Homo sapiens: one gene and its partners. The protein of the gene in region 1 purifies or fractionates together with the protein of each later gene. This does not show direct contact. Each region holds a gene or a part of one and is shown in the gene's direction. Other genes may lie near its edges.

Region 1 (3,751 bases):
CACCACTAAATAACTCATCTATGTAACCTGAAATAATCTGTACCCCAAAAACTATTGAAATTTTAAAAATTAACCTAAAGAGAAAAAAAGCAAAGTATCTAACAGTGCCTTTACTAGACTACCTTTTGTACAAGAAAAAGCAGATAAATAAGAATAAATATTCATATTTGCTTATATTTGCAAAAATAAACACTAAGATGGTAAACATGAAGTTAATACAAATGATTACATATGGGGAACAAACTGAATGGAGTGGATGAAAACGGTTGAGAGCAAACATTTTAGTGCATACCTTTTTGTATTGTTTTGATTTTATTGAACCATGAAACTGTATTATCTGTTCAAATAAAATTTATACACAAAAAAGAATATTCTAACAGAGTTGTTGAAATCATAGAAAAAATCATCTCTCAGGACTGGAACATCTCTTTGGACTGGAACTTCCTAGGTTTCAGCACATCTCACCAGTCCCTCCACCTATTTGCAGGGTCACTGATAATATACTGGCCATGGCCCGCCCATCCTCTGAGCTCCTGGAGAAGTACCACATCATTGATCAGTTCCTCAGGTAAATGCTGTATTGTTCACACACGAGTGAGCAAACTCATGTGTTTTTTTCTTTCATTGCCTTTGTTTCAAGTGAAAGAGTGCTTTCATTTTAACAATAGGCAGTGAAGAGTGTATTTCAAATGAGAAATTAAGATTTTTGAGAGTAATTAATAATGTTGATTAATACCAAAAATGGTTAATTTTTTTTAAATGCTAGCTCCCAATATGACTGACTGCCCTTTTTCCTTTAAGCCATGGCATAAAAACAATAATCAACCTCCAGCGCCCTGGTGAGCATGCTAGCTGTGGGAACCCTCTGGAACAAGAAAGTGGCTTCACATACCTTCCTGAGGCTTTCATGGAGGCTGGCAGTAAGTTCCTCCCACCCTCCTCTCATGAATTATCAAGGGCAGCACTCAGAGGCTTTTCTCTGCTGGGTTCTTAGATTAAAAAGATGATGGAAATAAATACCTTCTGCATCATAGTAAGGTTTAGAAAAAATGAGCTACCATTCTCTTTGGTATTGCTGTTGAAAGTAAAGGATTTCTTTGTTCCTGTAAGAGGGATGTTGGGAGGAGACCCTGTAGTAATAATGATTAACATTTAGTTAATGCTTACAGTGTGCCAGTCACTATTATCTCATTTAACCCTTAAAGCAGTTGTGTAACAAAATTATTATTTCTGTTTTACATATGAAGCCACACGGGGCTTAGAGAATTACCTGTTTGCCTAAGATCACACAGCTTAGAAATGGTAGTCAGGTTTGGAACCTGGACATGCTCCAGGTTTACTGCTGTCCAGCCCTGCTCCCAAAATGATGCCCAGGAATTCTACTTCTAACAATTTCAAAGCCGCCTCAATCACAGGAGCTTTGGGATGAAATACACTCAACATGTGTCCTTCAAACCAGGCTGGAAAGGATAAACAATCTTGGAACTTGTTTTTAAGAAGCTTATTTACACTAGATAGAAAATCCATATATACTGTCTTAAGCTATTTATCAGTCATTTAGACACATTTCCCTGCTTAAACAAGAATGTATGCTTTCTCTCCAAAGCTGAGTAACTATAGCATGAATCATTGACTTTATTAATTTGTAATTATACTTCGCCATAATTCTTTCTGGCTGAGTTTCTGCAGGAAATGTCTTTTTTTTTTCATATTTACATTTTTATTTTATTTTTTTTTAATTTTTTTTTATTATACTTTAAGTTTTAGGGTACATGTGCACATTGTGCAGGTTAGTTACATATGTATACATGTGCCATGCTGGTGCACTGCACCCACTAACTCGTCATCTAGCATTAGGTATATCTCCCAATGCTATCCCTCCCCCCTCCCCCCACCCCACAACAGTCCCCAGAGTGTGATATTCCCCTTCCTGTGTCCATGTAATCTCATTGTTCAATTCCCACCTATGAGTGAGAATATGCGGTGTTTGCTTTTTGTTCTTGCGATAGTTTACTGAGAATGATGATTTCCAATTTCATCCATGTCCCTACAAAGGACATGAACTCATCATTTTTTATGGCTGCATAGTATTCCATGGTGTATATGTGCCACATTTTCTTAATCCAGTCTATCATTGTTGGACATTTGGGTTGGTTCCAAGTCTTTGCTATTGTGAATAGTGCCGCAATAAACATACGTGTGCATGTGTCTTTATAGCAGCATGATTTATAGTCCTTTGGGTATATACCCAGTAATGGGATGGCTGGGTCAAATGGTATTTCCAGTTCTAGATCCCTGAGGAATTGCCACACTGACTTCCACAATGGTTGAACTAGTTTACAGTCCCACCAACAGTGTAAAAGTGTTCCTATTTCTCCACATCCTCTCCAGCACCTGTTGTTTCCTGACTTTTTAATGATTGCCATTCTAACTGGTGTGAGATGGTATCTCATTGTGGTTTTGATTTGCATTTCTCTGATGGCCAGTGATGATGAGCATTTTTTCATGTGTTTTTTGGCTGCATAAATGTCTTCTTTTGAGAAGTGTCTGTTCATGTCCTTTGCCCACTTTTTGATGGGGTTGTTTGTTTTTTTCTTGTAAATTTGTTTGAGTTCATTGTAGATTCTGGATATTAGCCCTTTGTCAGATGAGTAGGTTGCAAAAATTTTCTCCCATTTTGTAGGTTGCCTGTTCATTCTGATGGTAGTTTCTTTTGCTGTGCAGAAGCTCTTTAGTTTAATTAGATCCCATTTGTCAATTTTGTCTTTTGTTGCCATTGCTTTTGGTGTTTTAGACATGAAGTCCTTGCCCATGCCTATGTCCTGAATGGTAATGCCTAGGTTTTCTTCTAGGGTTTTTATGGTTTTAGGTCTAACGTTTAAGTCTTTAATCCATCTTGAATTGATTTTTGTATAAGGTGTAAGGAAGGGATCCAGTTTCAGCTTTCTACGTATGGCTAGCCAGTTTTCCCACCACCATTTATTAAATAGGGAATCCTTTCCCCATTGCTTGTTTTTGTCAGGTTTGTCAAAGATCAGATAGCTGTAGATATGTGGCGTTATTTCTGAGGGCTCTGGTCTGTTCCATTGATCTATATCTCTGTTTTGGTACCAGTACCATGCTGTTTTGGTTACTGTAGCCTTGTAGTATAGTTTGAAGTCAGGTAGTGTGATGCCTCCAGCTTTGTTCTTTTGGCTTAGGATTGACTTGGTGATGCGGGCTCTTTTTTGGTTCCATATGAACTTTAAAGTAGTTTTTTCCAATTCTGTGAAGAAAGTCATTGGTAGCTTGATGGGGATGGCATTGAATCTGTAAATTACCTTGGGCAGTATGGCCATTTTCACGATATTGATTCTTCCTACCCATGAGCATGGAATGTTCTTCCATTTGTTTGTGTCCTCTTTTATTTCCTTGAGCAGTGGTTTGTAGTTCTCCTTGAAGAGGTCCTTCACATCCCTTGTAAGTTGGATTCCTAGGTATTTTATTCTCTTTGAAGCAATTGTGAATGGGAGTTCACTCATGATTTGGCTCTCTGTTTGTCTGTTGTTGGTGTATAAGAATGCTTGTGATTTTTGTACATTGATTTTGTATCCTGAGACTTTGCTGAAGTTGCCTGTCAGCTTAAGGAGATTTTGGGCTTGAGACAATGGGGTTTTCTAGATATACAATCATGTCGTCTGCAAACAGGGACAATTTGACTTCCTCTTTTCCCAATTGAATACCCTTTATTTCCTTCTCCTGCCTAATTGCC
Region 2 (3,751 bases), on another chromosome or scaffold:
GAAGCTGGTCATGCCCAAACGCAACCTTGAGGGAGAGATGTTGGTGAGAGATAAGAGATGGGTGGCTGGGTACGGTGACTCACACCTGTAACCCCAGCACTCTGGGAGGCTGAGGCGGGTGGATCACTTGAGGTCAGGAGTTTGAGACTAGCCTGGCCAATATGGCGAAACCCCATCTCTACTAAAAATACAAAAATTAGCCAGGCGTGGCAGGGCCGGCCTGTAATTCCAGCTCCTCAGGAGACTGAGACAGGAGGATTGCTTAAACCTGGGAGGTGGAGGTTGCAGTGAGGCGAGATGGTGCCATTGCACTCCAGCCTGGGCGTCAGAGCGAGACTCCGTCTCAAAAAAAAAAAAAAAAGGAGAGAGATGGCCGGGCGCAGTGGCTCACGCTTGTAATCCCAGCACTTTGGGAGGCCGAGGCAGGCAGATCACAAGGTCAGGAGATCGAGACCATCCTGGCTAACACGGTGAAACCCCGTCTCTACTAAAAATACAAAAATTAGCCGGGTGTGATGGCGGGCGCCTGCAGTCCCAGCTACTTGGGAGGCTGAGGCAGGAGAATGGCATGAACCCGGGAGGCAGAGCTTGCAGTGAGCCGAGATCGTGCCACTGCACTCCAGCCTGGGCGACAGAGCAAGACTTTGTCTCAAAAAAAAAAAGAGAGATGGGCAGTTCACAGGGGTTTTTATCGTGCACTGCTGCTCAGGCTGTAGAACTTAAGGTATAGCAGATTTTGTTTGTTTAGATTTGTGGCTTGTGAGGCATTTTGTTCTTGAAGGTTTTGTTCTGGGCCAAGTTCAGCTCTGTAGAGCTTTACTACAGCCCTGCACTCTGGCCGTCTTTCTGCCCTCTCTGCAATGGGTAAGGAGAAGGAGCCTTAGAGATTAAGGCCTGGGTCCTCTCCTGACTTCAGTGGGGTGATGCCCAGTGCACAGGAAGTGGTGCAGGGCTAGGAGTAGGCACTCCTGACTTTGGAGGTCATGAAGTGAGTGACATAGAAAAGCCTTTGGTTTTTGTTTTGATTTCTGTTTTGTTTTTAAAACTAATAGTTTTGGGCTGGGGAATCAGAATCAACCTATGGTGAAAGTGCTGGCCTATGTAAAATTTGATGCGCACCCCACCCCCCTTTTTTTTTTAAAAGAATTGGGTTTAGCTATGGGTCAGGTCATTTTGCTAAGAGTTGTGATTCCACTGGGTCATCAGACTTCCCATCCCCCTGCAGGTAGGAGTAGAGCTGAGCTCACAAGGAAGTTATTAAGTGTCCTGCTGATGAGCAGGTGTATAAGCAGCAGTCAGTGGTGACTTGCATCTCCTCCCTTTGCTGGAAGGTGGGACTAGGTGAGTTTATATGCTGAGTTGACCAAGAGTTAAAATAGTAAAACCAGGGGGCTTCCAGCAGGAAGCAAGTAGAAAAGTTGTTTGTTAGCTTCTAATTCCACGATGTTGCGGTTCTAAACGGTGGCTCCTTTCTGGAAATTGTTAACTGTTGTGCAGATTTTTTCTGCATGTTATGGAATCACCTTCACCCAGCCCCTGCTCCCTCTCCTGGAACGTACTTCATTCAGCATGTGATGTGTTTTGCAATGTCACATGGTATTTCATCCTTTGCTTCTCTCTCTGGTAGACTGAGCTCCTCAAGCTTGAAGGCTGGCTGTCCCCCTTCCCACCCCAGCCCTTGTAGAGGACCCAGCACGAAGGTCATGATAGGTAACAGTTGCTGAGTGGTCATTCTGTGCTAGAGATTGCTCGCAGTGCTTTTCCTATGTCAGTGAATCTTCACACCACCGAAGAAGGAAGGAAATACTGTTCTTCCCAGTCTCAGATGCAGAATCCGAGGCGTGGGAGCAATTAACCTGGGTCACAAAGCGAGTGTATGGCAGGGCCAGGGTTTGGAGCCACGCCGACTGGCCGCAGAGCCGTGGAGCGCTGTACTGCTTCAGCGACCATTTGCAGCCAGCACAGTACTGATGAAGCCCCACTGTGGCATGCGGCCGTCCAGCCTTGGGATGGAGCTGTTCTTCTAAAGCTCGGTGAAAATCTTACTACCAAGAGGCGTGTGAAAATGCTTTTGAAGGCAAATGAAAATGGAATGCCTTTAAAGGAAGTCTGTGTCAAAATGATAGAAGATTAGTAACAAGGATTCAAGAATAGCATCACTTTCCAACCAATTCTCAAACTATTTGAAGAGTAGATACCACAGAGACAGTAAGTAAGTGAAACACCTGCACGTCAAGCAAGTGCTGCAGCACCTTTGCCTGTGATGTCACTTTCCACATGACTGCAACCTGCTTACCTGCAGGGAAGCTATGGGTCTTGCTCCTTTATATATTACACTAATTGCTCCTATGGAGAAACCGTGGGGAGGGGTTGGGGGAGGAGGGTCTTATATTGAACCTGGTTTTATATAGCTTTATAGCTTGATAACAGCTGGTTCCTTTCTTCTCAGAATTTGTAGTTTTAAGTGTATTGGGGTTTTATTTGTTGATTTTGCTTTAATCAGTTTCTTAATCCATGATCTGTTGCTTTGAATTAGACATTAACCTGTTTCTAAAGAGATAGACTAAACAAAACTAAAGGTTTGTTTGCTTAAGTCAAGCTTGAGTCTGGGGAGTTATGTAAGTAACATAGATATCTGGTTAATCTGGTAGGATAGCCTTTCCAAGGGAGTTTACATTGGTACTTTGAAAGAAACATTTTAAGTCGCAGAAAGGTAACAAAAATTAAGTTAACTGTAGCATCAGCACCAGAAAGTTACTGTTTCATTGAATGTAAGATAATGTCTGGCTCGGTGGCTCACGCCTGTAGTCTCAGCACTTCAGGAGGCCAAGATGGCAGGATCCCTTGAGCCCAGCAATTTGAGACCAGCCTGGGCAACATAGTGAGATCTTGTCTCTACCAAAAAAAAAAAAAAAAGAAAGAAATTCGGGACGTTTGCCAGGTATGGTAGTACACACCTGTAGTCCCAGCTACTCAGGAGGCTGAGGTGGGGGCATCGCTTGAGCCAGGGAGGTTGAGGCTGCAATGAGCTATGATTGCACCACTGCACTCCAGCCTGGGCAATAGAGTGAGACCTTGTCTCAGAAAAAAGAAAAAATAATAATAATTATATATGTATATATATAATCTTTGAAATTAGGTGTGTCTTTTATATATAATCTCCTATAATGTCTTTTATATGTATATATAAAATCTACATCTAATTTCAGAGATACTAAGATGTGGGGAAATGTACTTAGAATCAATGAAATACGGTGTTGGTGAATGCAAAACTTGTCAGTCATATTTATTGATTTCTTCTGTGTACAGATAATGGGCATTTGGTATTTATTCATTTATATTTTTTTTTTGGTCTTAATGGGACATGGTGTCTGCTTATTTGAATTATTTCCGGTCTGATTTCTATATTCCATTGTAGAATTTTCATTTACTTAATATTTATATCTGTGCCATTGAAGAGAACCTTCAGGAAAGCATCCTCTGGGGAAGGCCATCAAACAAGCAAACAGTCTAGTAATATTTTGCAGTTTGACTTATGAGAGCTTCATAGGAAGCCTCTGCCTTTAGGAAGTCAGTTGTATGCCTTAAGATTCACAGACTCGCCGGGCGCAGTGGTTCACGCCTGTAATCCCAGCACTTTGGGAGGCCGAGGCGGGCGGATCACGAGGTCAGGAGATCGAGACCATCCTGGCTAACAGGGTGAAACCCCGTCTCTACTAAAAAAAATACAAAAAATCAGCTGGGTGTGGTC
Region 3 (3,751 bases), on another chromosome or scaffold:
AGATGGCTCACTCTCTGCTATAGCTCTTAGAAAATCCAAATTCTGTACCTTAGCTTACAAGGCTTTTTATGACCCGCCTCTGTAGGATTATCATATGCCCAGTGGTACTGCATGAGAAGAGGTGACAGTAGGCAGGGAACAGACTGCAAAAGGCCTTGATAACCTCTTCCATTCACATTGGTCATCTTTCTGTTTTTTGAACTAACCAAGCTCATTATTCCCTTAGGACCTTTGCCCTAGGTCTTCCCTCTAATGAAAAGCTCTTTCAAGCTTTCTGTGGCTGGCTCCTTGTCATTCAGGGATCAACTTCAATGCATCTCCTCAGGGAGGTTTTCCCCAACCACTCAACTTAAAATAGCCTCACAGTCATCCCTTACTACATCATCCTACTCCTTTTTTCTATAGAGTACTCATCACCATCTACTTATTTTCTTGATTGATTGTTGTCTTACTCCATTAGAATGTAAATGCCACTAGAGTGAGGAACCTTGTCTGCCTTGTTTCTTCTGTGTCCTCAATGCTAGAATATACCAATAATAATGTATTGAAAAAATGAGTTTCAGAGGCTTGGAAGCATGAAACAGGCTGGGTTCAAAACTGCCGGAGTGTGGCTGGGTGTGGTGGCTCACACCTGTAATCCTTGCCTTGGGAGGCCAAAGCAGCAGGAGGATTGCTTGAGGCCAGGAGTTCAAGATCAGCCTGGGCAACATAGTGAGACCCCAACACTTAAAAAAAAATAGCTGGGCATGATGTCATGTGTCTGAGTCCTAGCTATTCGGGACGCTGAGGCAGAAGGACGAGGAGTCTGAGGCCGCACTGAGCCATGATTGTGCCACTGCACTTCAGCCTGGGCAACAGAGCAAGACCCTGTCTCTTAAAAAAAAAAAAAAAAAAGAACTGCTGGAGTGTGAAGTGTTGAGGCTGGGTAGGCAGAGTGGTCATCAAGGGCCAGGCAGAGTTCAAATCAAGAGACCACTCATAAGCAATTCTCAGGAGCATGGCCTCATCCTGTAGTAATGATAGCTATTATCCAGTGGTACTGCACGAGAGGGGGTTACAGTAGGCAGGGGACAGATCATGAAATGCATTGGCAAGTGAGAAACAGTATCTTTTCAATGAGTTTCTGAAATACCTTCTAGGAAAGCTGAATACTGTCTACCTGTGTGTATCAAACAATTTTTAAAATATATTATTAGACACACTTCTTTTCTTTAACTCATTATGCTTCTGTTTCACTCTTGGTTAGTTCTATATGTGGGTTTTATGCTTTAAAATCTGTAGCTCATGGCATGTGTAGAATCTACCTGGACTACATGCAAACTCAGTAAGGCAGAGGTTCAGAGAGCCAGCCTGTTTACACTTTTTACTAGGCCATGCCATATTCAGTTACTGCTCTTAATCCAGACCATCCACCCCATTTGGCTTCTTTTATTTCTAAAGCTGTAAGCAAGGTGTCCTACCATCTCTGTACTTTACCTTTTTTTTTTGAGACAAGAGCCTCACTCTGTCACCCAGGCTCAAGTACAGTGGCACAATCTCGGCTCACTGCAACCTCTGCCTCCCGGGTTCAAGTGATTCTCATGCCTCAGCCTCCTGAGTAAGCTGGGTTTACAGGCGTGTGCCACCATGTCTGGCTAATTTTTGTATTTTTTGTAGAGACAGGGTTCCACCATGTTGGCCAGGCTGGTCTCGAGCTCCTGACCTCAAGTGATCTGCCCACCTCGGCCTCCCGACGGCTGGGATTACAGGTGTGAGCCACCGTGCCTGGCCAGTCTCTGTAGTTTTCACTTGATTGTTCTGTCAGAAACTCCTTTCTGCCCTATGGCTAATGGAAAGTTGCTGAATGTGTTCTGAAAAAAGCAATTTTGCATTCAGCATTTTATAGGTTGGATAAAAGGATGGGATGGAGATGGTGGATAAGGGTTGCTTGCACCTCTGGGAATGGTGGAAAGATACTGAAAAGGCTGTGGACTCAGTGACCTGACAAGCTGTTATCCTGTATTTGTGGTGCCTAACATTGGTCATAGTTTTGTACTTACTCTTGAGGAAATATACATGATCCTGTCTGAATTTGGCTATGTATCTTTTAAACCTAGTGATTCAACTCACAGTAATATTAATATTGTGTCAAGTCTTTTACACTGTGTCATTTGTAGACACCATCTGGGAATTGCCATCTGGGACACGAGATCTTGGCTTTTCTACAGAAGTCGTGTCTTTGGGTTGGCCGCACCATATGTTATCACTGTGTGAGCTGAAAGTAACCATTTGGTATGATGCAGCTAACATTCTGGTTACGTGTACCACCTCCCTTCAGTCACTTTAAAAGGTGATTATCTGTTTCTAACCTGATTCAATAAGTTTTCTTCTCTGGTTTTCCTTTTTAATCCATTCAGCCTCCTTTGGAAAATCTGGCAACTGTGGAAGAGACTGTTGTTCGTGACAAGGCTGTGGAGTCCCTGAGACAGATCTCCCAGGAGCATACTCCTGTTGCTCTGGAAGCTTATTTTGTACCTCTGGTGAAACGCTTAGCAAGTGGGGATTGGTTCACCTCTCGCACATCTGCATGTGGTTTGTTCAGCGTTTGCTATCCCAGGGCATCAAATGCTGTTAAAGCAGAAATCAGACAGTAAGCCATGGTATTTTTTTGCCTTGTTAAAGCAGAAATCAGGTAGTAAGCTATGAGTTATTTGGGATTACTGGGGACTTGTAGCTGACAATTTACATAGTACCTTGTTACCAATGAGTGGCTGATACTAGGATAGTAGGATTTATGACATCTTTCTTTTTTTTTTTTAAGAGATAAGGTCTTGCTCTGTTGTCTAGGCTGGAGTGCGGTGGCACAATCATAGCTCACTGCAACCTTGAACTCTTGTGCTTAAGTGATCCTCCAGCCTCAGCCTCCAAGTAGCTAGGACTACCGACATACACTACTGCGCCTGGCTAATTTTTAAAAAAAATTTCTGGCTGGATGCAGTGGCTCATGCTTGTAATCCCAGCACTTTGAGAGGCTGAGGTGGGAGGATTGCTTGAACTCAGGAGTTCAAGACCAGCTTGAGCAACATAGTGAGACCTTGTCTCTACTAAAAAGAAAAAAATTAGCTGGGCATGGTGGGACCCGCCTGTATTTCTAGCTACTCAGAAGGCTGAGGTGGGAGTTCACTTGAGCCCCCGACAAACAACAACAAAAATATTTTTGGCATATAGATAGGGTCTTGCTATGTTGCCCAGTCTGCTTTCAATTCCTGGCCTCAAGCAGTCCTCCTACCTGGGCCTCCCAAAGTGCTTTGATTACAGGTGTGAGGCACCATGCCTGGCCTATGATGTCATTTTTTATTATCCAGTTGAATATGTTTTATTTTTGTTACTTCTATAAGTAGAAGCTTAGTCACTGATTATTGTAAGATAAAACCTCTAAAAGTCTGTCTGTGTGTATGGGGGGCAGGTTTATTCAGTGTTATTTGATGGGAAATACCTTCATTGTTTTATGTTGCAGGCAATTCCGTTCCTTGTGCTCAGATGACACACCAATGGTACGACGTGCTGCTGCTTCCAAATTGGGTGAATTTGCAAAAGTTTTGGAATTAGACAGTGTGAAAAGTGAAATTGTTCCACTGTTCACTAGTCTAGCTTCAGATGAACAGGTAAACTAACTCTTAGTATTTAAGGGACACAGATATGCTCCTTTCCTCTAAATTTTCAGAATTTCTTTGGGGAGTTTTAGTTTTCTTGTTAGGATTCTTTTTACAGA

What was found.
Region 2: the proteins of PTPDC1 (region 1) and PPP2R2D purify together in Homo sapiens (affinity purification with mass spectrometry; 6 studies listed by BioGRID and IntAct, with this or other methods). This does not show direct contact.
Region 3: the proteins of PTPDC1 (region 1) and PPP2R1B purify together in Homo sapiens (affinity purification with mass spectrometry; 4 studies listed by BioGRID and IntAct, with this or other methods). This does not show direct contact.

What each region holds. Positions count from the first base shown.
Region 1 is NC_000009.12:94,087,344-94,091,094, forward strand, and holds part of PTPDC1 (protein tyrosine phosphatase domain-containing protein 1), read left to right. Parts: intron 1-487; coding exon 488-568; intron 569-801; coding exon 802-920; intron 921-3,751. UniProt on the Homo sapiens protein: May play roles in cilia formation and/or maintenance.
Region 2 is NC_000010.11:131,903,859-131,907,609, forward strand, and holds part of PPP2R2D (serine/threonine-protein phosphatase 2A 55 kDa regulatory subunit B delta isoform), read left to right. Parts: intron 1-3,751. UniProt on the Homo sapiens protein: Substrate-recognition subunit of protein phosphatase 2A (PP2A) that plays a key role in cell cycle by controlling mitosis entry and exit. Involved in chromosome clustering during late mitosis by mediating dephosphorylation of MKI67.
Region 3 is NC_000011.10:111,759,697-111,763,447, reverse strand, and holds part of PPP2R1B (serine/threonine-protein phosphatase 2A 65 kDa regulatory subunit A beta isoform), read left to right. Parts: intron 1-2,396; coding exon 2,397-2,629; intron 2,630-3,496; coding exon 3,497-3,644; intron 3,645-3,751. UniProt on the Homo sapiens protein: The PR65 subunit of protein phosphatase 2A serves as a scaffolding molecule to coordinate the assembly of the catalytic subunit and a variable regulatory B subunit.